4 linked regions of the Homo sapiens genome follow. The protein of the gene in region 1 purifies or fractionates together with the protein of each later gene. This does not show direct contact. Each region holds a gene or a part of one and is shown on either strand. Other genes may lie near its edges.

Region 1 (9,446 bases):
CCTAATAACCCCAACTTTGGAAAGGAAAAGAAAATGTTTTTAAATTGCCTTTCCCCCTTCCTCTTTATTTGCAAAGGGGCTCCCTGACCCCCTCCCTCTGGTAGATGCTATCTTAGGACAATTACCTTCTCACCAGCCCACCCCAACCCCAGGGTGCCCAACCCCAGCAGCCAAAGAATGGGAAGTTTTGTTAAAGATTTCTTACCCTCTGCTTCGGGAACACTTTCCTCCTCCCCCAGTAAACAATTTATCCTGTGTTTACTAAATTCCTTTACCATAAGATTTCCAGAGAGTCATTTCTAATTTCACAAATGCAGAAGAGTGGTGGCTCATGCCTGTAATCCCAGCACTTTGGGAGGCCAAGGCGGGCGGATCATCTGAGGTCAGGAGTTCAAGACCAGCCTGACCAACGTGCAGAAACCCCGTCTTTACTAAAAATACAAAAAATTAGCCGAGCGTGGTGGCACATGCCTGTAATCCCAGCTACTCAGGAAGCTGAGGCAGGAGAATCGCTTGAACCTGGGAGGCGGAGGTTGCGGTGAGTGGAGATCATGCCATTGCACTCCAGCCTGGCCAACAAGAGCCAAACACCATCTCAAAAAAAAAAAAAAAAAAAGCAACAAACAAACAAACAAACAAACAAAAAAACAAGTGCAAAGACTGGAATCACTAATCTAACTTACGGTTAAGGTGGGGTTGGAGGACCCCTGACCCAAGCCTTTCTGGCATGCTACCATTATCAGAGCTACCAGGTAAAGGCTCAGGGAATTTCCACCCATCATTGTGCTTTGTGAGTAGAATGGGAAGAGCTGGGGATTAGAGAGACAAATTCTTAATTCTCTTCCAGCTCAGCTCCCTATTGACAACTTACTCAACTATGGGTTCCTGGATGTTCCAAGAGCCTAAAATCCAGAGTATTTCCAAGCCAGCACATCTGACCCAGCATGGTGTAGACTCAATGCCTGCTCTATGCCATCCAATAGTTTCCCAATTGCTCTAGATCCTAAGGTGAAGCCTGCTGAGGCCCAAGTCCCCATTTGCTCAAACAAACAAACAAACAAAACAAGAAAACACCTTCCTTGGGGTATGTATATCACCAAGGAACCCAGAAGATGAGGGGATACATTCCCCTCAGCCCCTCCCTATCTGGCAGCCTTTGGATGGGAGATGAGAAAACGTTGGGTCTGACTCTTTTATTCCAGCCTCCCAAAGTTGGGGGAGCTGTCCAGTCCCCAGACCAGGAAAGATTTTAATCTCTTTGTGATCAGATAAATGGGAGAGTGGGGGAGGCTTGCTACCCTGCTGAGGAGGGCCATTCAAAGCTGGTTCCTGTAATAAAGTGATTTAATAGATCTAAAAAGGCCAATTCCCTTCTTTCTCCCACAATTACTTCCTGTGGGTTATCATTCACATATGTAAATGAGACAGAGAAGGGAGAAAAGCCACTAGTGGGAAACTAGCTGTCTAATGGGGGGTTGGGGGAATAAGGGTGCTGCAAAGGGGCAGCTCAGTATCCTGCTGCAGGTCCTCTTGGCAGATGTTCAAGTAGCCCACTGACCCCATGGCCCCAACAGTAAGTGGTGGCTCCCCATCTCCCTGCGTCTATTTCCCTTGTTTGTTCCTCACTGAAGGCTGTGCTCAAAGACGTCCCTGCTGCCTCCAACTAGTCCATCCAGCATCTCCCTTCTCTACCCCTCCCCCAAAGAATGCCATCCCTTCAGGCTCCAACCCTTAATCCCCACATCCTCCTTTCCCCTCCCCCACACCTCCTAAAGCCAACCTCCCTTAAGTAACCCCTCCCTGCCCGGCCTGGGTGTCAACCTACACGATCTGGGATTAGCAATTTCTTCTTTCCAGATCCAGTCCCAAACCTCCAAAGATGGAAGGGCCATAGGCAGCAAGCAACTTCCTTTCCATGGTCTTTATGGGTAGCTGGTGGCCCAGGACCACCGGAATGCCTCTAGGATATTCAGGAAGGGGAAGCCTGGGAGGAGGGAGACCTGAAGTCTCTGGCTCCTTGTTTGAGGCCAGGAATGTTAAGACAGCAATCAATGGCTGTCTGGGGCCATAAATGCCAAGCGGAGAATAGGACCAGAGGCCAGCCTCCCTTCACCCCCTGCCCTGCGACACTGAATTTCACCCCCTACTGTGCTGCCCTGCTTTAACTGAGAACTTGGGGTTGCGACCTACCGACTTCCCTCCCAGCCTGGCCCAGGAATGTAAGGAAGGCCTGGGCTCTTTGGGTTTTCCTTCCTCACGGGAACTGGACAGCAAAGACCCCAGTCCTGAGCTTTCAAGCCCCCACAGGGATCCTTCAGGGATCTGCCAAACCCAGTTTTTAGTGACCAGCCAGGTGAGGTCTGCATTAAAAAGGGGATGAGGCTGACTTCTCGGCTTTACGCCCCTTGGGTCCAGTAGCCAGTTGCCCTCACTCTCTCCCGCCTTCTGAGCTCCATTCAGACGTTGGAGGAGCTGGGCTCCCGGCTTAGGCCCGGCATGTGCTTCCCTGGCCGGCCTGCTCGCCCTCCCCCCACCGGCAAGCACAATACAACCTTAGTTTCTGCCACATGGGGTCACCTCCCTGCCCCCTGCCCCTTCCCAGGGGAAAGAGGTAATAGACACGTGGTAAGCCGGAGGGGTTCCCGGAAGGGGGCGGGGGTGCTGATAATTGGTGCTGCCTCCCACTACTCCCCCACGAGATAGTTAACAGGGACTCAGAATTGGGGTGCCGAAGCAAAGACAGGGATGCATAATGAGGGCTCCCGATGGCCCTCAATTCAACTGCGAGCCCGGAGCCCACCCGTGGATATGGGCGCCTAGACGCCCTTCCCTGGGCAAAGTTACCGGAATCAGTCTCACCTGGTGCACAAAGACATCCACTGGGGGGTCGAGCGCGACCCCGGCGCGGGCGGTCATGGACAGGAAGCCGAACCCCATGCGCACGTTGAACCACTTACAGATGCCCGCACCGTGCAGCAGCTGAGGCTCGTCCGCCGCCCGGGCCGCGTCCTCCGGCGCCTCCTCGGGCGCCTCTTCTGCCGCCTTGGCGCAGCCACCTGGAGAGAGGGAGGGCCGGGCACTTAGCTGGGGGGCACGGAATCGGAGGGCCGTCTCGGGCCCCAGGCAGGGAGACCCGAGTATCCAGCCCCACAAGTGGACAGCCAGGAGGGGGCAGCTACCAAGCAACAGAAGAGAAGAAACCTATCCCGGTCGCCTCCCGCGTTCCCCTAGCGTACACCGGGACAGTAGTGCCCCGAAAGTTTTGCTCCTCTTCCCACAACGCGTTTCCCAGAGACTCACGGCGGGACAAGCCTCTCCTCTCCATCCACCCACGTAGTCTGGCGCGCACGCCACTGGGACACCAAGGTTCCTGGCCCCAGAGACGGCCCTATGAAGCAGAAGGCCGCACCGTCTTGGGGTCCTTTGGGCAGCCTAGGACTCAGTTCCCCACCTCCCTTCTACGTGGCTCCTGGCCGCCCCTGAATCCTAAAGTGTCCCCGCTAAGTCCCGAGCTCGAACCTGCAAACTGCTGGTTGGACACGGAGCCCATGGTCGTCGGCTGAGCCCGTGGCCCCGGGCCCCTGGTCGGGCGGCTGCTGGCCCCGGAGAAGTCCGAAGGCAAAGGGTTGGTTCGGAGAAGAAGCTGCTACATCTTCCCCCGCACAATAGCGGTGGGAGGGCCCACGGCTTTTCAAAGGCTCCCAAATTCTAAAAGACAATGACCCAACCCCCCGCGGGCAGCCCCCTCCCCTCCCCTCCCTCTCCTTTCCCCTCCCTTTCCCTCCGGCTCCAGCTCCGGCCCTCCCCCACAACTCCGGTCTCTGACACCTCTGGGGTGTCCCTTCTCAGAACCTTGAGGTTTGACACCCCCTCCCCACACGCACAACTGGAGATGGGTCTGTCTGCCCTAGAAGACTTGAGTACCCCGGAATTTGAGATCCTGCACTTTGGACTCAGTAGGGGTCCCCAAAGCAGATACAGGTGGGGGACCTGGTGGGGGGGGTAGTTTTAAAACCACGTGACTGCACACACACACACACACACACACACACACACACACACACCACCCCCACCCCCCGGGCAGATAATTATACATTCCAGAGAGTTGGGGGAGGGAGGTGTGAGCCTGGCGGCGCTGGCCAATCAGAAACACAAACCACCTGTCAAGGGAGAAATGAATGGGCCCTCCCCCTCCCCCAGCCCTTGAGCTCCCCTCCCCCTCTCTTCCCCCTCAGGCCTCTGAGCTGACCCGGCTGCTTGGAGCTGACCCGCTCTCACCCCCCACCCCCGTGTGCTTAGATAGACCTGGAGTTCTGGACACTGGGAAGCCCGGGATGGGGGAGCAGGGGAGAGGCTGGGGACACACAGGGCTGATCTGTCCTGACCAAAGCGCTGCCTTCCAAAGTCTGTCTGCCTCTGACTACATCTGAATGTCTGCCTCCCAGAGTTTCTGACTCAGAGTTTTTCTGGGCCTCCCCCAGTTAGAAAAGAGAAAGTGCTCTTAATTGATTCGTTGTAAAGAATTCTTCCTTCTTTCCTCCCTCCAAACCTGTGTGTCTAAAGTTAGCCCCAGGTAAGCTCCCTGGAGAGCAGGAGGAACCCAAAGAGTCTTGAAGCTGTTTCTCCACCAGCTGCCTTCTCGTCCTACCCCCACCCCATCCCCATCCACTGCTGAGAGAGGGACTGGGTGGGCTGGTGGGTAGAGGTACTTCCTCTCTACTCTTCACACTCTTAGATTCCTAGGCCCTCCTTGTTTCAGAGTAACCACCCTAAAATGCGCTCCCATTCCGTAGTGGGGCTGGTGGAGGAACAGGACTGGGGGGCCTCCTCATTTGAAGAGGTAACCTCCCCTTCTAGGAGATAAAGACGGCTGGCTAGTGGGGGTGGCTACTGCCCTGGTCGGAGATGGACAATGGCCCGGGGCTCAGTGCACGGCCCTGGCCCTGCCCCTTCACTTCCGGTGTTCAGTTCAAACTGGACAATGCCAGCTCCGGCCAGTTCCCCTCCCCCACCACTACAACCCATTTAAAGGGACAGAGCCTGCTTTCGGGGGCATCCGCTTGCTCTGAATTCAATCTTCTCCACCGAGTGTGCAGAACCTTTTGGAATTCTCACGCTGTGGCTCTGTGTGTGTGTTTGTGTGTGTGTGTGTGTGCACGTGCGGATGTGGGCACATGTGTATTTCAGAGAGACCGGATGAGTGGGGGTAGGGAAGGGGAAGATGGGGAGGAAAGCAAGAGACTGCAGAAGTTATTTCCCTTTCTCTCGTACGGGGTGCTCTCCAAGAAATGAAAACTTGAGCGTAAGGAATGGGAGGTGGGACTTCGTGGGGTAAAAAGGACAAGAGTGGCCCTTTGCTGCTCCGCCTAAAAAATACATATCGTTAACAAATATTATTAGCAGTGCCCCACTCCCATCTGAGGACTCTAATTTAGAATTATCAAGAGTTCTCCTAGTACATCAGCCAAAGCCATTTTTATTTACATAATTCTCCTCTCCCAAAAGTCTTATCTCCCGCTGTTAGTGGCGCCCTTAAAATATATTCGCTCCGTGTACCTCTGTTCCTAAGACTCAGGAGCAAGTGGCTGAGGTCTGGCTGAAGAAAAGGGAGGGAAAGGGGAGTTGAACGCTCTGGCTTCTCTAGGTGGGTTCTCAAGTGATGCGAATTCGGTTCCCCGGGAATGCGCGGCCTGCTTCTCTGTCCAGGGTCCTGAGGGCTCCAGCAGCTCTGTCCACGGTGCTGAATTGAGTCACGCTGTCTTGATTCCCAGCTCACAGTTTTGAGAATAACTTCTTGAGTTCCCACCTCCAAGTCTTTCCCAGAAAACCTGATTTTCCTCAATGCCGGTTCCCGCTGTGGTAACACTGACACATTTCAGATGAATGAAGACACTTTTTTTGGGGGACGGAGTCTTGCTGTGTTACCCAGGCTGGAGTGCAGTGGCACGATATCTGCTCACTGCAACGTCTGCCTCCTGGGTTCAAGCAATTCTCGTGCCTCAGCCTCCCGAGTAGCTGGGATTACAGGCACATGCTACCACGCCCGTCCAATTTTTGTATTTTTATAGAGACGGGGTTTACCATGTTGGCCAGGCTGGTCTTGAACTCCTGACCTCAAGTGATCCGCCCGCCTGGGCCTCCCAAAGTGCTGGGATTATAGGTGTGAGTCACCGCACCCGGCCTAAGATACTTTTTTTGAATGCTAAAGAAATGGCACTTTCGACCGGGCGTGGTGGCTCACGCCTGTAATCCCAGCATTTTGGGGGGTCAAGGTGGGAGGATTGCTTGAGGACAGGAGTTTGAGACCAGCCTGGGCAACATGACGAAACCCCATCTCTAAAAAAAATACAAAAATTAACCGGATGTGGTGGCGCATGCCAGCTACTTGAGAGGCTGAGGTGGGAGGATCACTTGAGCCCAGGAGGCCGAGGTTGCAGTGAGGAGATAGTGCCATTGCACTCCAGCGTGGGTGACAGACTCACCCAGGCCTTGTCTCAAAGAGAGAGAGAGAGAGATTCCCAGTAGTATATGATTTTGTGAGAGAGATGCAGGTATCTCAAACTCCTCTTCAGAAAAATGGGAAACCTACTTCCCATAATATGGCTGTAAAGGGTTAGGAAAGAAGAGATAATATTTTTTGAGTCAAAGAAGACCAAAGTAGAAGAAAAACTAATCTCTGTTTTTAATTTTCTTTTCTTTTTCTTTTCTTTTCTTTTTTTTTTTTTTTTTTTTTTTTTGAGATAGATTCTCACTCTACTGCCCAGGCTGGAGTGCAGTGGTGCGATCTTGGCTCGCTGCAACCTCTGCCTCCTGGGTTCAAGTGATTCTCCTGTCTCAGCCTCCTGAGTAGCTGGGATTACAGGTGCCCACCACCATGCCTGGCTAATTTTTGTATTTTTAGTAGAGACAGGGTTTTACCATGTTAGCCAGGCTGATATCGAACTCCTGACCTCAGGTGATCCGCCCACCTCGGCCTCCCAAAGTGTTGGGATTACAGGCGTGAGTCACCACTCCCGGCCTTATTTTCTTAATTATTACCACTTTTTAAAGGAGTACAAGGCATTAGAGTCAGATTACCCATGTTCGAATGTCAGCTCTACTATTTACAGCTCTTCCTTAACCTCTATATTCCTCTGTTTCTTCCTCTGTCCTATAGGAATAATGAGAATACTGAGGCCTCAGAGATATTGTGAGGATGAAGTTAGATCATGTAGGCAAAGCTTTTGAAACAGTTCCTGTCATGTAGTTAGTTCTTCTTCTTCTTCTTCTTCTTTTTTTTTTTTTTTTTTTTGAGACGGAGTCTTACTCTGTCACCCGGGCTAGTGTGCAATGGCATGATCTCAGCTCACTGCAACCTCTGCCTCCCAGGTTCAAGCCATTCTCCTGCCTCAGCCTCCCAAGTATCTGGGATTACAGGTGCCTGCCACCATGCCCGGCTAATTTTTGTATTTTTAGTAGAGACAAGGTTTCACCATATTGGCCAGGCTGGTCTCGAACTTCTGACCTCGTGATCCACCCACCTCGGCCTCCCAAAGTGCTGGGATTACAGGTGTGAGCCACCGTGCCCAGCTGACATGTAAAAAGTAGTACACACTAAGTAGCATGAGGATATACAAAAGTAAAAAAGGAAAGAAAAAATATTCCCTGCCTTCCAAGAAGTTATAGTCTACTTAGGAAGACAAGACTGAAATAGCTAAGCATTGTAGGTTTCTTGTGTACTGGTTTCTGAGAGTAATAATATCTAGGTAAAAGGAGGGTAAATGTACTCTTTAGAGAAGACAAGGGTGTCCGGTATCAACACAAAGAACATCCCTTTCCTTAAGGCATTTTGCTAAGTTCCTTTTGCGCAGGTTTATAGCTTCATAAAAGAGCTGCAAGAGGTCTTAATAATAATAACAATCCATCCAATAATTGACAAATATTTGCTGAGCACTTCTTCCGTGGCAGACATTGTTCTAATTGTTGAGAATACATCAAAGTGCAATACAAACAAAAATTCCTGCCTCTGTGGAATGAGCATTCTGCTAGATAATAATAACGACAGCCAGCATTTATCAGGAATACAGGCACCTTTTTAAAATCTCATTCAAGACTCTCAATAATGCTGAAGAATAAGTATTAAATTTTTACTTTACAGGAGAGGAAACTAAAGCTTAATCGAATCAGTATATTAATAGCTTGCCTAATGTTGCTCAACTAATACATGGCAGAGGCAGATTTGAACTCACACATCTTTGACTGCAAAGCCCATATTATTCCCACAGTTCTAGTATGTTGTTATCATGACTAGTGCCATCACCATTTTACCAATAGTGAAAAAATATACAGGCAGACAAAAAGACTGGAAGGAGACTATATATTCCACCTAGTTGATAAATATAGGACCCAAGTTTGTGATTTCTTTTCCATGGGCCACAGCTCTAGCCTGTCCTTTTTTTTTTTTTTTTTTTTTTTTTTTTTTTTTAAGACAGAGTCTCACTCTAGTTGCCCAGGTCGGAGTGCAATGGCATGATCTCGGCTCACTGCAACCTCTGCCTCCTGGGTTCAAGCAATTCTCCTTCCTCAGACTACCAAGTAGCTGGGATTACAGGTGCCTACCACCATCCCTGGCTAATTTTTTTTTTTTTTTTTTTTAAGTAGAGACAGCATTTCACCATGTTTGCCAGCTGGTTTTGAATGCTTCACCTCAGATGACCCGCCCGCCCCGGCCTCCCAAAGTGCTTGGATTACAGGCATGAGCCACCACACCTGGCCTAGCCTGTCATTTCTACTGATCATTCTTCCTATAGCTCCTTGGCTTTCTAAGTCAAAGAGCTGGCCAGAGCCAAAGCAAGTCCTCTTCTGGGTAATCATCCACACTCAGCTCCCATTTCTGAAGTACTCTGAGAATTCTGTGGTACAGTCGAGAGTGGTGTTCGGAGTGTAATATCCTGACCATCTTCTAACATGAATGATGGTATGCATTTGAGAGAAATATTTCCCATAGTGTGTCCCTCCAGATAGTAATTCCATGGGATGAATAATACGTATTATCAGTTTCAAAACATTTATAGAGTGACATCATTTGGAAAGGTATGTTAACTATGTTTCCTATGCAGAGGTTTTCTTTCTTTCTTTTTTTTTTTTTTGAGATGGAGTCTCACTTTGTCGCCCAGGCTGGAGTGCAGTGGCGCTATCTCGGCTCACTGCCACCTCCACCTCCCGGGTTCACGCCATTCTCCTGCCTCAGCCTCACGAGTAGCTGGGACTATAGGCGCCCACCACCACGCCGGGCTAATTTTTTTATTTTTAGTAGAGATGGGGTTTCATCGTGTTAGCCAGGATGGTCTCAATCTCCTGACCTCGTGATCCACCCGCCTCAGCCTCCCAAAGTGCTGGGATTACAGGTATGAGCCACCGCGCCCGGCTGGGACAGAGCTTTTCAAAGCATGGCAGTATACTCTGTA
Region 2 (5,324 bases), on another chromosome or scaffold:
TAGATAGTGCTTCTGATCACCTGTGACTCCTTCCTCTGTTGCAGCCCCCCATGGGTGAGGAGGGCAACCACAAGCGACACTCAGTGGTAGCAGGAGGTGGCGGCGGTGAGGGCAGGAAGCGGTGCCCCTCCCAGTCTTCCAGCAGGCCTGCTGCCATGATCAGCCAACCCCCTACACCACCCACCGGCCAGCCTGTCCGGGAAGATGCCAAATGGACAAGCCAGCACTCGAACACACAGACTTTGGGAAAGTGAAAAGCTCCTTAGCCCTGGGGCTTGAGGGGGGAAAGGGGTAGGGTGGGTAAGAGTCCATGGGGGTGCCCAGTCCCAGGAAAGGGGACAATGAAGGGACAGGCCTGGAGTTACTAGGACAGGCCTTTGTGCTGAGTAGCAATGTATACACCATTTGGGCTATCAGAGGTACCCCTGGGCAGGAGCCTCTACATCCCCTTCCCCCTCCTCTCTCCATGACTCTTGACATCCTAGCTTCTTCTAAGGGGGGAGGGAAAGGGGGGAGATTTTTATATATATATACATATATATATATCAAGTTTTAAATTATTGATAGTTCATCTGGATTACCAAAATCACTCTGCAGCCCTGCCCGAGGCTAGTAGGCTGCAACCCTGGTCCCCACCCCTAACCTCCTGCTCCCCCTCAAGCCAACTATGCAGCCCACAAGAAGGCCCTGCGGGCCCCCCCATTGCCCAGCACTGTCTCATAGAAGGCTCTGGTGGTACCTCTGGGCCCCAGGAGCATCAGCCCCTTGATCATCTGGGGTTTGTCATCACCATATTTTCTCCCTGCTGTTCCCACCATGCCCTTCTGCCATCTTCTGGGAGAAGGAAACCAAAGGATCTAAAACTGGGGTTTGGGGGAAGGTTTCAGCCTCTCCCCACTCCCCTTGCCCCACACCCTTTACTCCCCAGCCCAGAGAGACGCTGCTTTTACCAGGAAAGACTATTGAAAGATGTTTTATTTTATTTTTCTCTGACCTTTCCATCCTTGAAAAAATGGGGAAAAAAGAAGAAAAAAGACAAAATCGACCATAAAAGACCAAAAAAAAAAAAAAAATCAGAAAACCCCCACCTAATCCACAGAAAGTAATGTCTTTCCCCTCCCCTTGGAATTTTTGTTTTGTTTTTGGAAATAATATTTTTTTAAAAGTTGCCTTATTGTGGAGCGGGAATCTGAAATACCCAAATGCCTGTTTTCCTCGGTGGAGTCAACCCGAAGAGCTCCCACCTTCTCTGGATGTGCCTGGGCTTGGACTGGCTAGAATCTTTCTCTGGACTGTTGCATGTACAGTGCCTCCATCCTGGAGGCAAGAGAGTTGGGAGTGGCTCGAATCAGAGCCGTGCCCAAGATATCCCTGCTGTTGCATCGTTTGAAGCTGACGTCCTGTGTCTGTACACTGCTGCCACTGTTGTGTCCTCGCTCTGCTTGCTGTTGCCTCACGCCAGGCCCCGTCCTGCCGTGACACCCTTCATCCTACCCTTGGAACCCCAAGGCCAAGTTGGTTCAAACTGTTGGAGAACAGAGTTGGCCTGCATCTGGAACACACTTGTCCTCAGCTTACCATCTCCTCACACCCCAGAGTGGAAAGGTGAACACCTGCAGCTGAGGCTTGGAAACGTTTCTTGTGTTGCCCTGAAAAATCTTTGAGACCTCAGGGAGGCTCTGTCTCTCTTAAAAGGTGGAGAAAGATGCCATTCTCTCCCTAAGGTCTGGTGGAGTCTCCCCATCTTGCATACCCTTCTGCAAGCCATCTATCTCTGCTCACTCTCCAATTGACCCGCCTGGGAACAAGGGATGAGGAGGAGTTGGGGGCTGGGGGGAATCCTGCCAGTTGGTGAAGCCCTGTGGCAGGAAGGTATATGTGGACATAGAGTATACCTGATTCTCTTTCTTCAGCCACTGACTGCTTGGGTTGGGCTGTGAATGATAATGGAATGGCTGGAGTCTGCTGTTGTCAGAAGGCAGGGAGGGTGATGAAGGACTGACCCACATGGACTGGGATGTGTGTCGGTTATGGGCATGACTGCACGTTCACTCTCAGTGGGATCTGGGCAACATGGAGTTCATTGTCCTGTTGCTTACTTACTGCAATGTCTTTGGCCCTCCTTTTCAACTGGTTCCTCTGTTGGGCCCAAAGGTTGGGAGTAGGAGACAGTATCCCAGGCTGACAAGGGCTTGCCCTTTACCTTGGGCACCTTGTTAATTTTTAGCCTGTGCCCTTCCCCACCTTTGCCCTCCCAGTGGTTGGTATGTGGGAAGCCCATCTCAGTTCCTGTGACTTCATGTCTCAAACCAAGGATGAGCGTCTGGTCTCTGCTATGATGGTGGTATCCGAGGCCTTTCCCTGCCCAGTCTGGTGCCTGCCCCACATTGTACCGGACACTGGATTCCTGGACCCCCTTCTCCTTTCCTTTCTTTCCTTCAGGTCACGCAGCCCTGTACTGTATCCAGCACCACAGAAACCTCAGTGTTTTTCCTCTGCTGGTTTGGGGCACAAGGAAGCCTTAGGGTATGGGGAAAGGCTGTTATTACCTAGAGTTTACTCCCAGGCCAGGGGGCTGCCATCTTCTTCACAGACATCCCTGAAAGGAAGCCCCTTTGGGGCAGGGAGGTGAGGACTTCATCTCAACATCGGCTGGTGGTTGGTAGGGGAGCTTTTTCTTTTCTTTCCTTTTTTTTTGTTTTTGTTTTTGTTTTTGTTTTTGGTAACATGTTAGGAGTTAATGTTGCAAAGAGTAGTTTACATCTTCACTTTCTGAAGACACTTGAATTTAGGACCGATGTATCTGTGACAAGCATGCCAGAAGTGGCAGGGGCCATCAGGGCTAACCACTTCACACCTACCATCGTCCCATGGGGATCCAAGACCTGAGATAAAGCAACAGCCTGCCCAGATCCCTCTGTTCATCCTATCCCTTCCAAGGTTGGTCCATGCCAACATAACCTCTGGGCATCAGACATCAGCAGGTCTGTGTGCCTCAGCCCTGTTAAGGGGCAGGTTTCTCTTTAGCCCTCTTCCTGCACTTGGGAGCAAAGGCACTACCAGTAGAGAAGGGCCATCCAGCCGTGCCCCAGCCTGGACCCCTGGGGCTCAGATAGAGGTGCTGAGCCCCTGTGTCAAAGTTGTTAAATGTTTTTGTTTTGTTCCATTGTAGCTCTTTTTTTTTTTTTTTCCCCTTTCCTGGTGATTGATTTTACAAAAGAAAGTAAGCTGCTTAGAAGGCCCTGGAAGGGAAGTGAGGAGGAGGGACAAGGAAGATGACTAGTTACGGAGGGTGAGGGTTGTTTTTTGCCAAAAAGCCTGGGTAGAGTGATCTGAATTATCTGGCACCCTCCTGAATGGAACCCCAGAGTACCTCCTGTGTGGAAGGGTCCCTGGATTTTCCCTAACACCCACCCTCTCCCCCTTCAGCCATGCTGATGGCAGAGAAGATAAGAACTTGGAGCCCATTTCTCACTGGAGAGGAAAACTTGTCATCTGGCTTTGCGGAGAAGGTTCCACCTTACGCTCGTAGTACATTATCTTTACTATGTGCTAGGATATCATATTTAAAAGGACAAAAAAATGTAAAATACTTGAATGAGCTTGTATTATAACATTAATATTATTGAGAGTATCTGCTTTCCAGGCTGAAGTGATTCATTCATTATTCTAGTCCTGCTTTAGTCCTTTGTAATTTGTGGTAATTATGCTTTTCTTTTTAATACAAAAAAATGTATAAAAATAAACACTTGAAAAGGCAAAATACTGGCTGGTCTTCCATCTAGGTTACTGCTATTGGGTGTGAAGGATGGGTTTCTGGTAGAGTTCCCCCAGATCCGGAGGAACCCTGCACTCAATGTGCACATGAAACCTCGGCAGGGGTTCTGCCATTGGGCTTCGAGGAGTCTGCCTAAGGCAGGGGCTTCTACAAGCCTTGAGTTCATGTCCACCCTGTGTCTTAAGTGAGACGTGACAGTCATAGCCAGTGCCACAAAACAGCAGTCCAGCATAATGCCAGGATTTCAGCGCACTTGTCAGCTTCCAGGTTTTCCATCCCCTGGCTGTGGCCTGCATTGTGTTATGAGACAGCCAAGAAGAAAAACGATGAGGCTTCTTATGGAGGGTTGCCACAACCCCTCTATGAACAGACTTTTCCACAGGGGGGTGAAGGAGGAATGATCCAGCACCATGTGGACTTACGGAATCCTGGTCAGCCCCGAACCCTGAGATGTGATGCTGGGGAGGGATGGAACAAAGAGTCCCCCATTCCCCGTATAAATTACAAAACTAAAAATGGGGCATGGCCTTATTTACGTGTTCATCTGACAACTGTCTCCCATACCTGGCTTGGGTAAATGGTTTTTCCAGAGAGTGCTTTTTCACTGTTCTTGAGGTTGGCAGGTACTTCAGTACCACCAGTGACCTCCACAGGCCAAAGGAAAGTTTAGGAGATAGTGTCCAGGGCTGATGCAGACGGATTGGTACTTTGAAAACAGAAAGATGAATTAATTGAAACTTACTTTCACAAATTATCGTTAGGAATGCTCACAGCAGCTTAATTTCACAGCCTGAGCTTCCAAATGCTATGTCTGAAGTATTAGAAGTCTTGTAGTAGACACCTCCCTTCAAAAAAAAATTATCCACTGGAATTCATGAAGACCAGTTTATTTTACATGCTTGCTTTCACATTCTTTACTGGGAATTTAAGGCCTTTTTTCAGCCTTAACTTGTATACCAACCTCAAGGATTTTGTTTGATACAGAAAAGGATAGGGCTGGGCCCTTCTGCCAAGGACTGATAACCTGCCTGCCAAAAGGAAGAGGGAATGAAAGCCTTTTGTCCTTCTAGGCCCCTTACAGTACCTCAAAATCTAAAGGCCTTAAAGGGGAAAAAAACCGTATCTGTTCTTTCTCCTTATCTCCTACCCTTCTCTTTAAGCATATTGAAGATGGACTTTTTTCCAAATGTTTATTTGTAGGAAGAGGTGATGAGTGCAGGCCAGCAGCTGAGAACTTACAGCTTTGATGCACCAGGAACTGTATTCAAGCTGAGGGCAAAAGCCTCCTAGGGAGGGAGCCAGGTCCACCAAGGCCAGAGACAGACAGGCGAGACTGTGGAAGGCCAGGGAGATGCTGCCTGGTAAGTGCTCAGCTGGCCTACTGGGCAAGTCCTCTGGGGTTCTAGAGCTGATAGGAAGAAGGAGTCCATTTTGATAGTCCTGCCTGGAGACTTGGACCTAGCTGATACTAAGGTATTTTATAAAGCTACAGTGGATGTTTTTCTTAAGAGAACTGAAAGTTGGAAAAGGCACAAGTATATATAAG
Region 3 (8,595 bases), on another chromosome or scaffold:
CTGGCGTGAGATAGTTTCTCATTGTGGTTTTAATTTGCATTTCTATAATGACCAGTGATGATGAGCTTTTTTTCATGTTTGTTGGCTGCATAAATGTCTTCATTTGAGAAATATCTGTTCCTATCTTTTGCCCACTTTTCAATGGGGTTGTTTGTTTTTTTCTTGTAAATTTAAGTTCTTTGTAGATTCTGGATATTAGCCCTTTGTCAGATGGATTGATTGCAAAAATTTTCTCCCATTGTGTGGGTTGCCTGTTGACTCTGATGATAGTTTCTTTTGCTCTGCAGAAGCTCTTTAATTTAATTAGATCCCATTTGTCAATTTTGGCTTTTGTTGACATTGCTTTTGATGTTTTAGTCAAGAAGTCTTTGCCCATGCCTATATCCTGAATGGTATTGCTTAGGTTTTCTTCTAGAGTTTTTATGGTTTTAGGTCTTACGTTGAAGTCTTTAATCCATCTTGAGTTAATTTTTGTATAAGGTGTAAAGAAGGGGTCCAATTTCAGTTTTCTGCATATGGCTAGCCAGTTTTCCCAATGCCATTTATTAAATACGGAATCCTTTCCCCATTGCTTGTTTTTGTTAGGATTGTCAAAGATCAGATGGCTGTAGATGTGTGGTGTTATTTCTGAGGCCTCTGTTTTGTTCCATTGGTCTATATATCTGTTTTGGTACCAGTACCATGCTGTTTTGATTACTGTAGCCATGTAGTATAGTTTGAAGTCAGGTAGTGTGATGCCTCCAGCTTTGTTCTTTCTGCTTAGGATTATCTTGTAAATTACTTTGGGCAGTATGGCCATTTTTATGATATTGATTCTTCCTATCCATGAGCATGGAATGTTTTTCCATTTGTTTGTGTCCCCTCTGATTTCTTTGAGCAGTGGTTTGTAGTTCTCCTTGAAGAGGTCCTTCACATCCCTTGTAAGTTGGATTCCTAGGTATTTTATTCTCTTTGTAGCAATTGTGAATGGGAGTTCCCTCACAATTTGGCTCTCTGTTTGTCTATTATTGGTATATAGGAATGCTTGTGATTTTTGCACATTGATTTTGTATCCTGAGACTTTGCTGAAGTTGCTTATCAGCTTAAGGAGATTTTGGGCTGAGATGATGGGGTTTTCTAAATAGACAGTGATGTTAATCTGCAAACAGAGACAATTTGACTTCCTCTCTTCCTATTGGAATACGCTTTATTTCTTTCTCTTGCCTGATTGCCCTGGCCAGAACTTCCAATACTGTGTTGAATAGGATTGGTGAGAGAGGGCATCCTTGTCTTGTGCCGGTTTTCAAAGGGAATGCTTCCAGCTTTTGCCCATTCAGTATGATATTGGCTGAGGGTTTGTCATAAATAGCTCTTATTATTTTGAGATATGTTCCATCAATACCTAGTTTATTGAGAGTTTTTAGCATGAAGGGGTGTTGAATTTTATCAAAGGCCTTTTCTGCATCTATTGAGATAATCATGTGGTTTTTGTCATTGGTTCTGTTTATGTAATGGATTACGTTGAACCAGCCTTGCATCCCAGGGATGAAGCCAACTTGATTGTGGTGAATAAGCTTTTTGATGTGCTGCTGGATTTGTTTTGCCAGTTTTTTATTGACGATTTTCGCATTGATGTTCATCAGGGATATTGGCCTGAAATTTTCTTTTTTTGTTGTGTCTCTGCCAGGTTTTGGTATCAGGATGATGCTGGCCTCATAAAATGAGTTAGAGAGGAGTCCCTCTTTTTCTATTGTTTGGAATAGTTTCAGAAGGAGTGGTATCAGCTCCTCTCTGTACCTCTGGTAGAATTTGGCTGTGAATCTGTCTGGTCCTGGGCTTCTCTTTTGGTTGGTAGGCTATTGCTGCCTCTATTTCAGAACATGTTATTGGTCTATTCAGGGATTCCACTTCCTCCTGATTTAGCCTTGGGAGGGTGTATGTGTCCAGGAATTTATCCATTTCTTCTAGATTTTCTAGTTTATTTTCATAGAGGTGTTTATAGTATTCTCTGATGGTAATTTGTATTTCTGTGGGATCGGTGGTGATATCCCCTTTATCAATTTTTATTGTGTCTATTTGATTCTTCTCTCTTTTCTTCTTTATTAGTCTGGCTAGCAGTCTATCTATTTTGTTAATCTTTTCAAAAAACTAGCTCCTGGATTCATTGGTTTTTTTGAAGGGTTTTCGTGTCTCTATCTCCTTCAGTTCTGCTGTGTTTTAGTTATGTCTTGTCTTCTAGGTTTTGAATTTGTTTGCTCTTGTTTCTCTACTTCTTTTAATTGTGATGTTAGGGTGTCGATTTTAGATCTTTCCTGCTTTCTCCTGTGGGAATTTAGTGCTATAAATTTCCCCTTAAACACTGCTTTAGCTGTGTCCCAGAGATTCTGGTATGTTGTGTCTTTTTTCTCATTGGTTTCGAAGAACTTATTTATTTCTACCTTATTTTTGTTATTTACCCCGTAGGCATTCAGGAGCAGGTTGTTCAGTTTCCAAGTAGTTGTGCATTTTTGAGTGGATTTCTTAAACCTGAGTTCTAATTTGATTGCAGTGTGGTCTGAGAGACTGTTTGTTATGATTGCCATTCTTTTGCATTTGCTGAGGAGTGTTTTACTTCCAATTATGTGGTCAATTTTAGGATAAGTGCAATGTGGTGCTGAGAAGAATGTATATTCTGTTGATTTGGGGTGGAGAGTTACGTCACTGTCTATTAGGTCTGCTTGGTCCAGGGCTGAGTTCAAGTCCTGAAGATCCTTGTGAATTTTCTGTCTCGTTGATCTGTCTAATATTGACAGTGGGGTGTTAAAGTCTCCCATTATTATTGTGTGGGAGTCTAAGTCTCTTTGTAGGTCTCTTAGAACTTGCTTTATGAATCTGGGTGCTCCTGTATTAGGTGCATATATATTTAGGGTAGTTAGCTCTTCTTGTTGCATTGTTCCCTTTACTATTATGTAATGCCCTTCTTTGTGTTTTTTGATCTTTGTTGGTTTAGAGTCTGTTTTATCAGAGACTAGGATTGCAACACTTGCTGTTTTTGCTTTCCATTTGCTTGGTAAATATCCTCCATTCCTTTATTTTGAGTCTGTGTGCGTCTTTGCACATGAGATAGGTCTCCTGAATACAGCACACTGATGGGTCTTGACTCTTTATCCAATTTGCCAATCTGTGTCTTTTAATTGGGGCTTTTATCCCATTTACATTTAAGGTTAATATTGTAATGTGTTATTTGATTCTGTCATTATGATGCTAGCTGGTTATTTTGCCCATTAGTTTATGCAGTTTCTTCTTAGTATCGATGGTCTTTACTGTTTGGTACGTTTTGCAGTGGCTGGTACCAGTTTTTCCTTTCCATATTTAGTGCTTCCTTCAGGAGCTCTTGTAAGGCAGGCCTGGTGGTGACAAAATCTCTCAGCATTTGCTTATCTGGAAAGGATTTTATTTCTCCTTCACTTACAAAACTTAATTTGGCTGGATATGAGATTCTAAGTTGAAAATTCTTTACTTTAAGGATGTTGAGTATTGGCCCCCACTTTCTTCTGACTTGTACGGTTTCTGCTGAGAGATCCACTGTTAGTCTGATGGGCTTCTCTTTGTGGGTAACCCGACCTTTCTCTCTGGCTGCCCTTAACATTTTTTTCTTCATTTCAACCTTCGTGAATCTGACGATTATGTGTCTTGGGGTTGCTCTTCTCGAGGAGTATCTTTGTGGTTCCTGAATTTGAATGTTGGCCTCTCTTGCTAGGTTGGGTAAGTTCTCCTGGATAATATCCTGAAGAGTGTTTTTCAACTTGGTTCCATTCTCCCTATCACTTTCAGGTACACCAATCAAACATAGAGATTTGGTCTTTTCACATAGTCCCATATTTGTTGGAGGCTTTGTTCGTTCCTTTTCATTCTTTTTTCTCTAATCTTGTCTTCACGCTTTATTTCATTAAGTTGATCTTCAATCGCTGATGTCCTTTCTTCCACTTGATCAATTCGGCTATTGATACTTGTGTATGCTTCACAAAGTTCCCTTGCTGTGTTTTTCAGCTCCATCAGGTCATTTATGTTCTTCTCTAAACTGGTAATTCTAGTTAGCAATTCCTCTAACCTTTTTTCAAGGTTTTTAGCTTCCTTGCGTTGGGTTAGAACATGCTCCTTTAGCTCCAAGGAGTTTGTTACTACCCACCTTCTGAAGCATACTTCTGTCAATTCATCAAACGCATTCTCCGTCCAGTTTTGTTCCCTTGCCGGCGAGGAGTTGTGATCCTTTGAAGAGAAGAGGCATTCTGGTTTTTGGAAATTTCAGCCTTTTTGTGCTGGTTTTTCCTCATCTTCTTGGATTTATCTACCTTTGGTCATTGTTGTTGGTGACCTTTGGATGGGGTTTCTGTGTGGACGTCCTATTTGTTGATGTTGATGCTATTCCTTTCTGTTAGGTTTATTTCTAACAGTCAGACCCCTCTGCTGTAGGTCTGCTGGAGTTTGCTGGAGGTCCAGTCCAGTCCCTGTTTGCCTGGGTATCACCAGCAGAGGCTGCAGAACAGCAAAGATTGCTGCTTGTTCCTTCCTCTGGAAGCTTTGTCCCAGAGGGGTACCCGCCAGATGCCAACCAGAGCTCTCCTCTATGAGGTGTCTATTGACCCCTGATGGGAGGTGTCTCCTAGGCAGGAGGCACAGGGGTCAGGGACCCACTTGAGGAGGCAGTCTGTCCCTTAGCAGAGCTTGAGCACTGTGCCGGGAGATCCGCTGCTCTCTTCAGAGCCGGCAGGCAGGAACGTTTGAGTCTGCTGAAGCTGTGCCCACAGCCGCCCCTTCCCCCAGGTGCTCTGTCCCAGGAAGATGGGAGTTTTATTTATAAGGTCCTGACTGGGGCTGAGGCAGCATTTTGTTTCCTTTTTTTGTCTTGGAGTGTTCATTCTTTATTCTTCACTAGACTGAACTTAGTTCTTAATCGTTCTTTTATCCTCAATATATTAATAGACTCTTGCTATCATAGGTCCTTATATTGTGAGTTAAGTGAATGAATTGTTGCTATCTTGGGAATTACTGCTTAATTTTTGTTTTCCTTCTAGGACCTCGACTGGATTTTGATCCTGACATTGTTGCAGCTCTTGATGATGATTTTGACTTTGATGATCCAGATAATCTGCTTGAGGATGACTTTATTCTTCAGGCCAATAAGGCAACAGGAGAGGAAGAGGGAATGGATATACAGTATGTGTGGTTTGTTTCAAAGCAGAGATGATGACCTAAGTGTTACTGCTTCAGTGGGATGGTAACCATAGAACGTTACAGTTGGAAGAGACCTTCAAGAGCATTTAATCTGAGACTTCTGTATTTTAGAGCAGAAAATGTGAGATTCATTGCTTTTCCTACCAAACCAGATTGATCAAACACCCTCACTCTTCCTGCCTAGACAAGAACCCTTCCTGAAATACCTTCCAATTTTACTTGTGTAAAGTGGTTTTGTTCTGTTACTTTTTAAGTTGTTTTGGTAGGTAATTTATGACCTTTACTTTAGGAAATCTGAGAATGAAGATGACAGCGAGTGGGAAGATGTGGATGATGAGAAGGGAGATAGCAATGATGACTATGACTCTGCAGGCCTATTGTCAGATGAAGACTGTATGTCTGTGCCCGGAAAAACTCACAGAGCTATAGCAGATCACTTGTTCTGGAGTGAGGAAACAAAGAGTCGCTTCACGGAGTATTCGATGACTTCCTCAGTCATGAGGAGAAATGAACAGCTGACCCTACATGATGAGAGGTTTGAGAAGGTAAGGTCCCCACATAAGGGATGCTTTAGTACTATCTTATGTTAAATTTTTTTTTTTAATACCTGTCAGCTTTAGCCCAGGTTGAAGTGCTCACCAACCACAAAGTCAATCATAGGAAGTTTACAACTATCCAGCTATAGGTTCGTGTAGCCAGCATAAAGCAGAAGGGTATCAGTGCAGTACAGGAGCACAAAGACTGCAAAGGGAGCATAGAACTGTGCAGAAGAAGAGTAATTGGTTAGGAGGATGTGACTTTTCCAATTTACATCACACGCTTACACCAGGAGGTGGCTCAAATGATGCCTCATTCAACCTGAATGGGTAACCAAAAGTAGCTGTAATAGTTTTATTCTCACTAACTGTGGTAGGACAACTCACTTGAGTTTCTATTTGGCCCTTAAAACCCCCAGAAGTGGCCCTTAAACCCTCACCATCTCTAATGTTGTGCTTCTTTATTATGTATGTCATATATGGATTTGTCTCAGATTAGAATGTGAATCCCCCAAGGGCAGAGAGTTTTTTATATTTTGCTCACGATACATCTGAAAGCCTAAAATGGTGTCTTGGCATGTAGTAGAAGTTTAAAGTGTTCCATAAATGATAAATGAATGAAGGAATAGTTTCCTTCAAGGTGACTCTAAAGATAGAAGCAGTCCACTCAAGGACCTTGACGAAGCCGAGCGGGTTGAGGTTGATCTGGAAACTGGAACATCCTCTGGCCAAGTCAGCTGATCCGCCCGCGAGCTAAGTAGATGTTAGGCGCCTTGCTGTGTGCCTTGTTTTTTTTTGTTATTTTTCTTTTTTTATTTTTTAAAAAGAGAGATTGGGACCCAAAGCTAAAACTTTTGAGTGTTGAAAACAGCGTATCTCTTTATTAAAACAGAGCATAAAAGCACCTTAGTTATTGTCGTTTTCCCTTTACATATTCTATGAGGCCAGTCACCCTAGTTTTGATTCTGGAAAGAACGTGTGTAGGTCAAAAGGAGTTGGCTGATCAAACGTTCTTATTTTCCCCCTTGAATTCTGACATCCTGATTCTGAATTTCTCCAACAGTAATCCATAAGATGCTATATTTCTGAAGTATTGGCCTGATTGAGCACATCAAAATTCCATTTCTTTCCGTTTCTCATCTGGTGTTTTCAGACATAACTAACACTGAGGAATAGAATGGAAGTAGAGTATAAGACACTTTTGAAAGCTTGTATTTTCATATACTCTATTTGGTTCTGTTGTAACAGATTAGCTCCAGGGTTTATAATCCCAACCTATAGACTGTTTATACAGGTTTTTAATCCCACCTATCCTGTTGTTTGTTCTGTAGCACATAACACCTCCTAACATCATCTCTAATGTTGTGCTTTATTATGTATGTTATATATAGATTTGTCTCAGATTAGAATGTGAATTCCCCAAGGGCAGAGAGTTCTTTGTATTTTGCTCACGGATACATCCAAAAGCCTAAAATGGTGTCTTGGCATGTAATAGAAGTTTAAAGTGTTCCATAAATGATAAATGAATGAAGGAATAGTTGCCATCCAGGTGAATCTAAAATAAAGGCTGTTACCTTGCTACCTTCTCACCTAATACTATTTTCCCTCTTCTCTTGAGGGAGAAACAAACTGTTGCTACAAATCTCACTCTTCAGGAGATATATCCCCCCCATTTACTCTTTGTCAAAGCTTAACAGTGTCAACACCATTTGCATAATATAGTAATTATTGTCTAAACAAGAACAAATATATACATTAGTAGGTGAATTTTCAGTTGCACAATCTTTTAGTTTGCATAACTAAGGAATATGAAAATATCTTTAGTCTAGGCGTAGTGTCTCGTGCCTATAATCTCAGAACTGTGGGAGGCCGAAGCAGATGGATCACTTGAGCCTAGGAGTTTGAGACTGTCTTGGGCAGTGCAGACCCTGTTTCTATTTAAAAAAATAAATAAAATGGCCTGGTATGGTGGCATGTGCCTGTGGTCCCAGCTGCTTGAGAGGCTGAGGTGGGAAGATTGCTTGAGCCTGAGAGTTTGAGGCTGCAGTGAACTATGATCACGCCACTGTACTCCAGGCTGGGAGACAGTGAGATACTTAAAAAAAAGAAAAAGTATCTTCAAAAATGTTCTGACGTAATCTGTGCTGCCTAGCATTTTGTTCTCCAAGCTGAGTGGAATAATGCCTTTCATTTACATGTTAAATGGAAGCCTATTTTTAGGCTAAATGTAAGTCTTAAAGTACTGAGCAGAAATATCTTCCACATCCTATTGTTGCATTAAATCCCTACTGATATTTTAATGGTAATTGTGATAGTACCTGAATAACTATTGTGTAAGAATAAAGTTAATGTAAAAAAATTTTTAAGTGTGTAGTCTTACTGAGTACATTTGCTTTTCATGGTATCTTTTCTCTGTTTATATTCAAGTTTTATGAGCAATATGATGATGATGAAATTGGAGCTCTGGATAATGCAGAATTGGAAGGTTCTATTCAAGTGGACAGCAATCGCTTACAGGAAGTTTTGAATGACTACTATAAAGAGAAGGCAGAGAAGTATAGTGACTTTTCCTTCCTTGTTTAGCTGTTCTTTTTTTTAAAAAAGAAAAAATTCCAAAGAAAGGTCTATAGTATAACTGAATTGAGGAAAAAATTAACCTAGTCAAAATACATATTGAGAAAATGAAAAAGGAAAAAAGAAAAGGGGAAAAAAAAAGATAGGGCGGAAAAAAGAAAGTGGTACATTTTCCATAAACTTGGGTCATGTATAGCTCATTGTTTTGCCTACATTTTGGTGTTAAATGTTCTGAAGTAGAACGTAATGGGAATATACGAGGAGCCACTTTCTCCGTATCTTTGACTGGAGA
Region 4 (8,595 bases), on another chromosome or scaffold:
CATTCTAATCTCCAAAGCCACATTCCTTTCTCTCAGGGGATCGGAGCTTAGTAATCCTTAGCACAGTGAAAGGGTGAAAATAAACTGCAAAGAGGGATGCTAATGTGTTGCTGGAAGACAGGCATCCCTGAAAGTGACTGGGGATTGAAACAGCAGCCGGGAAGATGACTCCTAAGATTGGGACTGTTATCTAAGACACTATTTTTTTATTAGTTATTTTTAGGTAGCCCTTAATTTGTTTCATGCCCTTATTTTTAGTTTTATCTTTTACTCTTGAGGTAAATCTTCAGATTTCAACCAAACATTTAGGAAAATGAAAGCCAAATCTTGATTTTATTGGCATGATCAAGTGGTCACTCTCATGGCCATGAGTTATTTAGCCCTTTAAGTGTTTGAATGGCCAAAGGAACTCAACAAATACTTAATTTTCCCAAAAACACATATTTTTGAGTAGCTAATTTTCTTTCTTGTACTTATTAAAAAATGGCAGGCTTATTTTATATTTAATTCAAAACATATAAATATGTAAATTAAAAAGTTACCATTCGTCTCACCTGGGTAGCTGTTGGTAAGTTGGGGATGTATCTCTATAGGATTTGTTGCCTGTATCTACTAACATGTGTGACTTTAAAAAAGAAATCATGTCATGATGTGAATTGCATTATTTCACTTAAGGACTTTTTACTGTGTTGGTACTTGTAATTTTACCACATTTTCAAAAACATCTGTATGATATGAATATACTGTTATTTAACCATCTCTTCCCGCAATTAGATAATTCTAATTTTCTATCTGTTAGAAACGGAACTTTCCCATGCCAGTGGTTCTCAACTACAAATGATCATCTCTCTGCCCCAACCCCCGTAGACATTTGGCAATGTCTGGAGACATTTTTAGCTGTTAGAGTTGAGAGAGAGGCATGCTACTAGCATCTAGTAGGTACAGGCCAGGGAAGTTAGTAAATTTCCTACAATGCACAAGACACCCCATCCACAACAAAGAATCTGGCCCAAAAAGTCAGTAGTGCCAAGGGTAAGAAACATCACTCTTGACCCATGTATGAGACTATATCTGTAGATGTTACCAGGAGTAGATGTTACAAGAAATACAGTTCTTGAGTCACAAGGTGCTCAGCATTTTGCTGACCAGTTTGCTCCTACCAAAAGTGTTGAGTGTGCCTTGTTACCCATCATCTTGCCCATATTTAATTTTTTCTATCTCAATTTTTGCAAGTCTAGAAGAAAATGACATTCTTTTAGCTGGCAGACATATAATTACTAGTGAAATTAAACATCATTTTGAGTTTATTGGCCACTTGCTTTTCTTGAAGTAGAATTGCCATCTGTCCAGGTTCCATTCCTATCACTGTTCGTTGCAGACTTTCCTCTATCAAGGAGGCAAAATGTGGGAAGAACCTTGCAAAGGGGAAGCAGATTGGTGAAATCTGCTCATCCAATGAATGAAGAATGATATACTGTGCAGAATAAGCAGTTCAACTTGGCTTATGGGATTCCAACTCCTCTCTTGGCATGCCCTCCAGTTCCTATTTGTTTTAGAGCAGATTGAATCCAGGCTCTTTGTCATGAGACATTTGTTCTGTGGCATCTGAAAGGAAGCTGTAAGCACAAACAGCTTGGGTAGAATGAAAAGATGTCCCCGCTTGGTTGGATTGAGGAAAGAGAAAGGGGAATGTTCCTAGAATTAAAATTTGCCTCTTAAGGCATTAATGTTGACAGCTTATTGAAAGTTTATGCTCTTGAGGGAAGTGAGTCATCTGCTTTGCCCTGAAGCCCTATGACTTTGCATTTGGTAATTACAGACTCCACTGTGAATACACGCTTACTGCTCTCGTTTTCCTCTCTGCTTGCGCCCACTATCAGAATCGATGTCCACCGTAAAGAAAATGCGGGGGCTGCTGAGAAGTCGATTACTATCCTCTCTACTCCTGAAGGCACCTCTGCGGCTTGTAAGTCTATTCTGGAGATTATGCATAAGGAAGCTCAAGATATAAAATTGTGAGTAAAGAAGATTGTCCTGTGAAAGAGGTTGATATTTGTGCTCTTGTATTTTTGACATCTCTGACACAATTCTTGGGAATTGCCAACAAACAGAGGGAAATGATATCCTGATGAGCTACAGTGGTTGGCACTGTTGATCTGGTTGTGAAGTGTATGTCTTTTAATATTTAAATATTTTCATTCACATTTGAACATAGGCGAGTGGTGATAACGGGGAAGAGAAATGCAGCTATAGAAGAAGGCAACTTGGGGAACCTAGGACCAGGAGGTATCCTGGATTAACCCAAAACAGGAGCCCCAAATCTTGACTCATCCTTTACTCGGAGCTCATTGGAGCTCTGTTCTTGTCCACTGCCTGGCCCCACCTTGGAGCAGCAGGGAGTGTGGAGGTGGGGAAGTGCCTAAGTCTCTTCTAAGGCAAACTGGAGATTTATCTGGGTAATGCAGGCGGGAACTCTATTTCTTCCACAGGAACTTTGAGTGAAGGTTGGGTTCTGTGCCACGTTTAGCGTACAGAACAGCGCTGCACTGAAAGTAGAATCGAGAGTAAGGCACTGGAGTTAGTGTGGGGACCTCATTACCAACCTTAATTTGTAGAGAACTTTAAATATGTTTTAGTAATATTATATGTGGGTGCCATATCATAAGAATGTAATTATTAAAGTAAAAATTTTAAAGAAGAATTATTTTAGTATAGAGAAAAATAGGCCTGGTGTGGCGACTCATGCCTGTAATCCCAGCACTTTGGGAGGCCGAGGCGGGTGGATCATGAGGTCAAGAGATCAAGACCATCCTGGCCAACATGGTGAAACCCCGTCTCTACTGAAAATACAAGAATTAGATGAGCGTGGTGGCATGTGCCTGTAGTCCCAGCCACTTGGGAGGCTGAGGCAGGAGAATGGCTTGAACCCGGGAGGCGGAGGTTGCAGTGAGCCGAGATCGCGCCACTGCACGCCTGCCTGGCGCCAGAGGGAGACTCTGTCTCAAAAAAAAAAAAAGAAAGAAAAAGGAAAAGCCCACCATCTATTAACCACAATGACATTTTAAACAGTTTTATATATATATGACTGGGAAATTCAGAAAGCTACAAAATGAAAAGTGAAAGCTCCCCTTCCTGTTCTTATGCCCTTCCCCCAAAGTGTAACCACTGTTGTTTCTTCTGTTTCCTTCTATAAATTATGCACATATCTCCAGGTGTATATTTGTACTGGATGGTACTGTTTTTTATTTGTACGTTGTGTTCTGGTAGTAGGGGTTTAGGAATATGGTTTTGAGTAAGAGACTCCATCACTGAAGATATTTCCTGAAGTGAATAAAATAAGAACTATTTTAGAAGTTAACTTCTGTATTTTTTCTCCCCTTCTATTCATGCATTGCTAGAATGCTGGCCAATTGTCAGCAAGTTTTAAGCTGTACCTAACACAGTGCTTCCCAGATGGTAGGTAGGAAGTAAATGTTTAATGAGTGAATATTGTCTTTTTACCCACGAATAGGTTTACTTATTCTAATTTTATGGCCACTTTTCTATTTACAGCACAGAAGAGATCCCCTTGAAGATTTTAGCTCATAATAACTTTGTTGGACGTCTTATTGGTAAAGAAGGAAGAAATCTTAAAAAAATTGAGCAAGACACAGACACTAAAATCACGATATCTCCGTGAGTGCTCCTTTGCTTTTGAATAAGAAAACTTTCCAACACTGTAAGCTGCATGTTGTGTATTGGGCTTAGCTTCCCACTTTACAGCTGCTTCAGCTAGCCTGTGCTGCCGTACTTACACATGGTTTCTCAAATACAGCTTGCTGCCTGTTAGGTTTCTGACCCGTATTGAAAGCATTATCTGCTTCTGGCAGGAGGAACCAAATGCTTTACATTCATGTTTTCTAAAGCAGTCTTAACTATGTTTTATGACATTTATTCCCAAAGTTGGAATATATAACCCAGTTTATTATCCATTGTCGTGTAACGCATTATCCCAACATTTGACAGCTTAACACAATGTGAACATTAATTGCTCAGCTAGTTTTTGTGGGTTAGGAATGCAGGAGCAGCTTAGCTGGGTGGTTCTGGCTTGGGGTCTCACAATGCTGCTGACAAGTTGATGCTGGCTGTTGGCAGAAGGCCTCAGTTCCTCCCACATGGGCTTCTCCACAGAGCTGCTTGAGTGTTCTCAAGACATGGCAGCTGTCAAGATGGAAACTGCAATGTCTTTTATGACATAGCCTCAGAAGTTATACTCTATCATTTTTCTAATGTTGTTTACACAAGTCAGCCCTATTTGGTATGTATGTGTGGGACTACAGATAACTGGGTGACAGGAATCACCTTGGAGGCAGGCTACCACACTTAGAATCTGTGGATGCTCTGAAATTACGTGGAAAGGTTTTTCTGAGGGTGGCCATTCTTAGTTTCACTCAGAGTACTCAAAAAGGTGGGAAAAGATTGATGAACTGAGGAAGAGTGGTAGGGGAAAGACTGCACGGTGTTTGTGTACAAGGAGTTTTCAAAGGAGGTAGTAAGGAAGCAGGAAACTTCTGTTTGGTTGTAAAGAAAGGGGGAAAAAAACCCCACAAAGTGGTAAATTCAATAAGTAATACTACTTTGTCTTAAATTTACCCCCAGAAAGGGGAGAGTTTTAAAAGAAAAAAATCTCAAAAGTTATTCTAGAAGCAGCTATTTTTAAAACTGTAATACAAAATGCTTGGCAGGGCCAGGTTGAGACTGAATTAGAATTATAGACTTCTTTTTAAAGTAGTCTAAGAGAAATAGTCTTCATTATACAAATGTTTACATTTTTAACAAGTTTGAGGAAAATGTTAAGGAATAACTTCCCATTCATCTGGCTCAAGGTTAGCCTGTGACATTATACTAGTAGTGAAAATGAGAACTTCAGGAAGATGAAGGAGATTTGTACCAATAATCCATATCCTCTCAATTTATGTACTTAGTTCTGTTTTCCATGGCACATGTCTCCCATTGCTTTTCCTCTCAAGGCTGTTGACCAGCATAGGCTTAGGTGTTTTCAGGTATGATATTCAGTGGCTTTTGAAGGTTCAGCAGGACCTAGGTCCCGCAGGGAGTTTCTGAATATTTCTGCCACTATCTAACGTTTTTGTTATCTAAATGGCATCGGTGAACCATTTTAAATTTTAGTCAAGATGGATTGATATTCCTCCAGCCTACTTCAATCTAAATTCTAAAGAAACTGGTAAAAACTAAGTTTAGACACAGGAATTCTGGCTTGTGTTTTTGGAATATTTCCATGCTTTCTCCTTGCTTGGTGACCCAGAAAATGCAATTGCACGAGAATGCCAATTATGCCTAGAATTGGTTAATACAGACTAGGAACATACTTATGAAAGGTTATGTACTTAGGGTATTTGGTTTCCTCAAAAACTATACATCTTTCCAGTCATTTTTTAATTCACTGTTCAATTGTGAAAATGGTTCAACTTTAAGCGGTTGAGAAGTAAGCTTTATTTAAAATATGGACTTGATTGAACTATATGTATCCAGTAATCGTTAGTTGAGAAAATGGGAGGGCAAATATTTTCTTCTCTCTTGCAGCTTTACAGTTTCGGATTTACGTCTTTTGGGGCTTACTCATTTCCCATCATGTTTTACCACCCACTTTTACATATTACCAGGCTCCACAGTTTGTTTTTAATTGCCGTCTGTGGCTGAATTATTAGCTGTCTTCCTCCAATTTTCATTCTTTTTCTTTCCCTTCTTTTTCATTCTGCAGATTGCAGGAATTGACGCTGTATAATCCAGAACGCACTATTACAGTTAAAGGCAATGTTGAGACATGTGCCAAAGCTGAGGAGGAGATCATGAAGAAAATCAGGGAGTCTTATGAAAATGATATTGCTTCTATGAATGTTAGTTTTGTTATGAAGGGCATGTCTTTATTTTAACAAATAGTTAAAACAATGTTTTTAACTGCATTAATATTGAATTCTTTTGTGGCATTATCACTAGAAGTAGTTCTAGTTGATTTTTAGCACCTCAGCAAGTACCCTGGGATAGTAGGGAAGATACTGGCTTTGACATTAAGCTTTGCTGTCTCTGTGACTTTAGCAAATTATTCAGTCTTTGAGCCTTAGCTTCCTTCTGTCTGAAGTAAGGCTAGTGTCTACCTACAAAGGTTAATATAGTACCTCTCTTACAATGTTAATTTGAGAGAGTTTAATATAGAAGAAATGTTACATGAACTGGATTTGAATCACAGCTGAACCATTTATGAGCTGCAGCTCTCTTCTCTTATATGATTTACTCAGTCTCTCTGAGGCTCAGTTTACTCATCTGTAAAATGGGACTACTGCCTACCTTGCATTCTTATTAGGATTACAATAGATATAATGCATATAAAAGTTAATGTTAAGATTACAGGTTTAAAACTTGGTTAGCCATATAAACCTTGGAGATACAAGAATTTCAATTGATAAAACAATCTGTGTAGTGCATCTGAGGCTATTAAAGCAAATTGCTGACATTCCTTAATCAGTGAAATGGTGCTGAAAATGGAATACTTCAAAAGCCTGTCTTAAATTTTAAAGTAAATGACTTTAAAAAATAATTTTTTTTCAATTGGGCCAGTCATCTGAAACACAAAACCTGAGACGAGGGAAATGTGCAAATACTGCGTTTGTGAGAAGAGCCTAGAATGCTAGCCATTTTACACCCCACGTGACTTCTTGCCAACCTGCTTCAATTCTCACTGCTTGGCTCCAAATGTTCTGGAATCAACTGGGATTAAATCTAACCCCCTTAGGCCTTTTAAAAAGATTTTCAAGTACACTCAAATCTCCCTTCCACCGTCTACATTACGTCCTCAACCCTTATAAAATTAAACAAATTAAAATACCCTTTCTGGCTCCTATTTCCATTCCAGTGATATGTTTACTTGCAGTAGTTACATGGGGATGGGTCCTGATTTCCAGAGGGCTCAACTTTGAGGCCTCTAGACCCATGGTTGCTAAGTTTTACCCAGCAAGTAAAGATCTCTTAATAGCTGGTTTGCTTTTCAATGAACCAATCTTACTTGATTACCTCTTCAACTCTGATACATTGCTTTTTGTCTATATTTAGTTTGCCCACAGCATGCAGAATACGGTTTTGTCTAAGTCCTGTGGGCTAGTCATAAGGGAAAGGAAAGCTTCCCTTGAGATATCTTAATGCAGCTGTGGACCAAGGAGGGGGCAAACCAGCACACAGATTTTAAAATACCAAGGGATATAAACAGATGTAAACGATGTACTCAAGTAGAGTCCCATGGAACATCTGCTTTGAGTTATACAATCATTTCTTTATTAGACAAGAGATCAGTTTGAATACTGTCACTTAAAAATGCTCACTTTCCCTTGATTCTTTTAATTGTCAAATTAAGGGGCCTTTTTACTGTTGCAGCTTCAAGCACATTTAATTCCTGGATTAAATCTGAACGCCTTGGGTCTGTTCCCACCCACTTCAGGGATGCCACCTCCCACCTCAGGGCCCCCTTCAGCCATGACTCCTCCCTACCCGCAGTTTGAGGTAAGATAACTGGCCTTGGCTTTCTTTGTGATTGGGCAAAATCTTAATGTAAACCTAGTCCCCGCGTGATCATCTGTTTAGATGCCAACATATGCTCTCCAGTTCTTGCTAATGGAGCCTTCTTATTTGGCCCTTTGTGGAGTAGACATGGGATTATTTTGCAGTTTTTGGATAGCGGGGTTGTCAACATGTGTTTTCAAATATCACAACAAAAGTTTGGGACTTTGAGGTGGCAGGGGAAGAAACTTAGTAATTGTTTTTCTTATTTAAAAAAATTTTTTTTCTTTTTTCTTTTTTCTTTTTTTTTTATTCTAAGTTCTCGGATACATGTGCAGAATGTGCAGGTTTGTTACATAGGTATACATGTGCCATGGTGGTTATTTAAAAGTTTTTGGAGACACAGTCCCACTCTTTCGCCCAGGCTGGAATGCAGTGGCACAATCTTGACTCACTGCAACCTTCACCTCCCGGGTTCAAATGATTCTCATGCCTCAGCCTCCTGAGTAACTGGGATTACAGGTGTGTGCCACACCACACCCGGCTACTTTTTTTGTATTTTTAGTAGAGACAGGGTTTCGCCATGTTGTTCAGGCTGATCTCAAACTCCTGGCCTCCAGTGGTCTGCCTGCCTCGGCCTCTCAAAGTGCTGGGGTTATAGGCGTGAGCTATTACCTGGCCAGTAATTATTAAATACTAAAGGAAAAGATTTTTTAAAGGCTTCTTTCATCTTTGTCACCTGAAGTCAATGGCTTTGAAAGGTCAGGAGTGACTCTGTGTGTTTTCCATGTTGAGTGTACTTTTTTAAACCAAAGAGATAAGATAGTTTTGTGCACAATTATATTGTGTGTGTGCGTGCATACATTAAGCAGATGTTTATTTTGTAAAGAGGTAGGTTATATAAGAAATAAATCTTAGGCCAAGTGCCATGGCTCACACCTGTAATCCCAGCACTTTGGGAGGCCGAGGCGGGAGGATCACCCGAGGTCAGGAGTTCAAGACCAGCCTGGCCAACATGGTGAAACCCCATCTCTACTAAAAATACAA

Evidence for each region.
Region 2: the proteins of LIN28A (region 1) and LARP1 purify together in Homo sapiens (affinity purification with mass spectrometry; 5 studies listed by BioGRID and IntAct, with this or other methods). This does not show direct contact.
Region 3: the proteins of LIN28A (region 1) and LTV1 purify together in Homo sapiens (affinity purification with mass spectrometry; 3 studies listed by BioGRID and IntAct, with this or other methods). This does not show direct contact.
Region 4: the proteins of LIN28A (region 1) and IGF2BP3 purify together in Homo sapiens (affinity purification with mass spectrometry; 4 studies listed by BioGRID and IntAct, with this or other methods). This does not show direct contact.

What each region holds. Positions count from the first base shown.
Region 1 is NC_000001.11:26,404,996-26,414,441, reverse strand, and holds the start of LIN28A (protein lin-28 homolog A), read right to left. Parts: upstream 3,626-9,446; 5' UTR 3,551-3,625; coding exon 3,520-3,550; intron 3,057-3,519; coding exon 2,860-3,056; intron 1-2,859. UniProt on the Homo sapiens protein: RNA-binding protein that inhibits processing of pre-let-7 miRNAs and regulates translation of mRNAs that control developmental timing, pluripotency and metabolism.
Region 2 is NC_000005.10:154,813,843-154,819,166, forward strand, and holds the end of LARP1 (la-related protein 1), read left to right. Parts: intron 1-44; coding exon 45-254; 3' UTR 255-3,763; downstream 3,764-5,324. UniProt on the Homo sapiens protein: RNA-binding protein that regulates the translation of specific target mRNA species downstream of the mTORC1 complex, in function of growth signals and nutrient availability.
Region 3 is NC_000006.12:143,852,270-143,860,864, forward strand, and holds part of LTV1 (protein LTV1 homolog), read left to right. Parts: intron 1-5,033; coding exon 5,034-5,175; exon of another isoform or gene 5,176-5,312; coding exon of another isoform or gene 5,313-5,314; intron 5,315-5,482; coding exon 5,483-5,738; intron 5,739-8,156; coding exon 8,157-8,284; intron 8,285-8,595. UniProt on the Homo sapiens protein: Essential for ribosome biogenesis.
Region 4 is NC_000007.14:23,341,020-23,349,614, reverse strand, and holds part of IGF2BP3 (insulin-like growth factor 2 mRNA-binding protein 3), read left to right. Parts: intron 1-1,880; coding exon 1,881-2,015; intron 2,016-3,552; coding exon 3,553-3,675; intron 3,676-5,761; coding exon 5,762-5,897; intron 5,898-7,425; coding exon 7,426-7,551; intron 7,552-8,595. UniProt on the Homo sapiens protein: RNA-binding factor that may recruit target transcripts to cytoplasmic protein-RNA complexes (mRNPs). This transcript 'caging' into mRNPs allows mRNA transport and transient storage.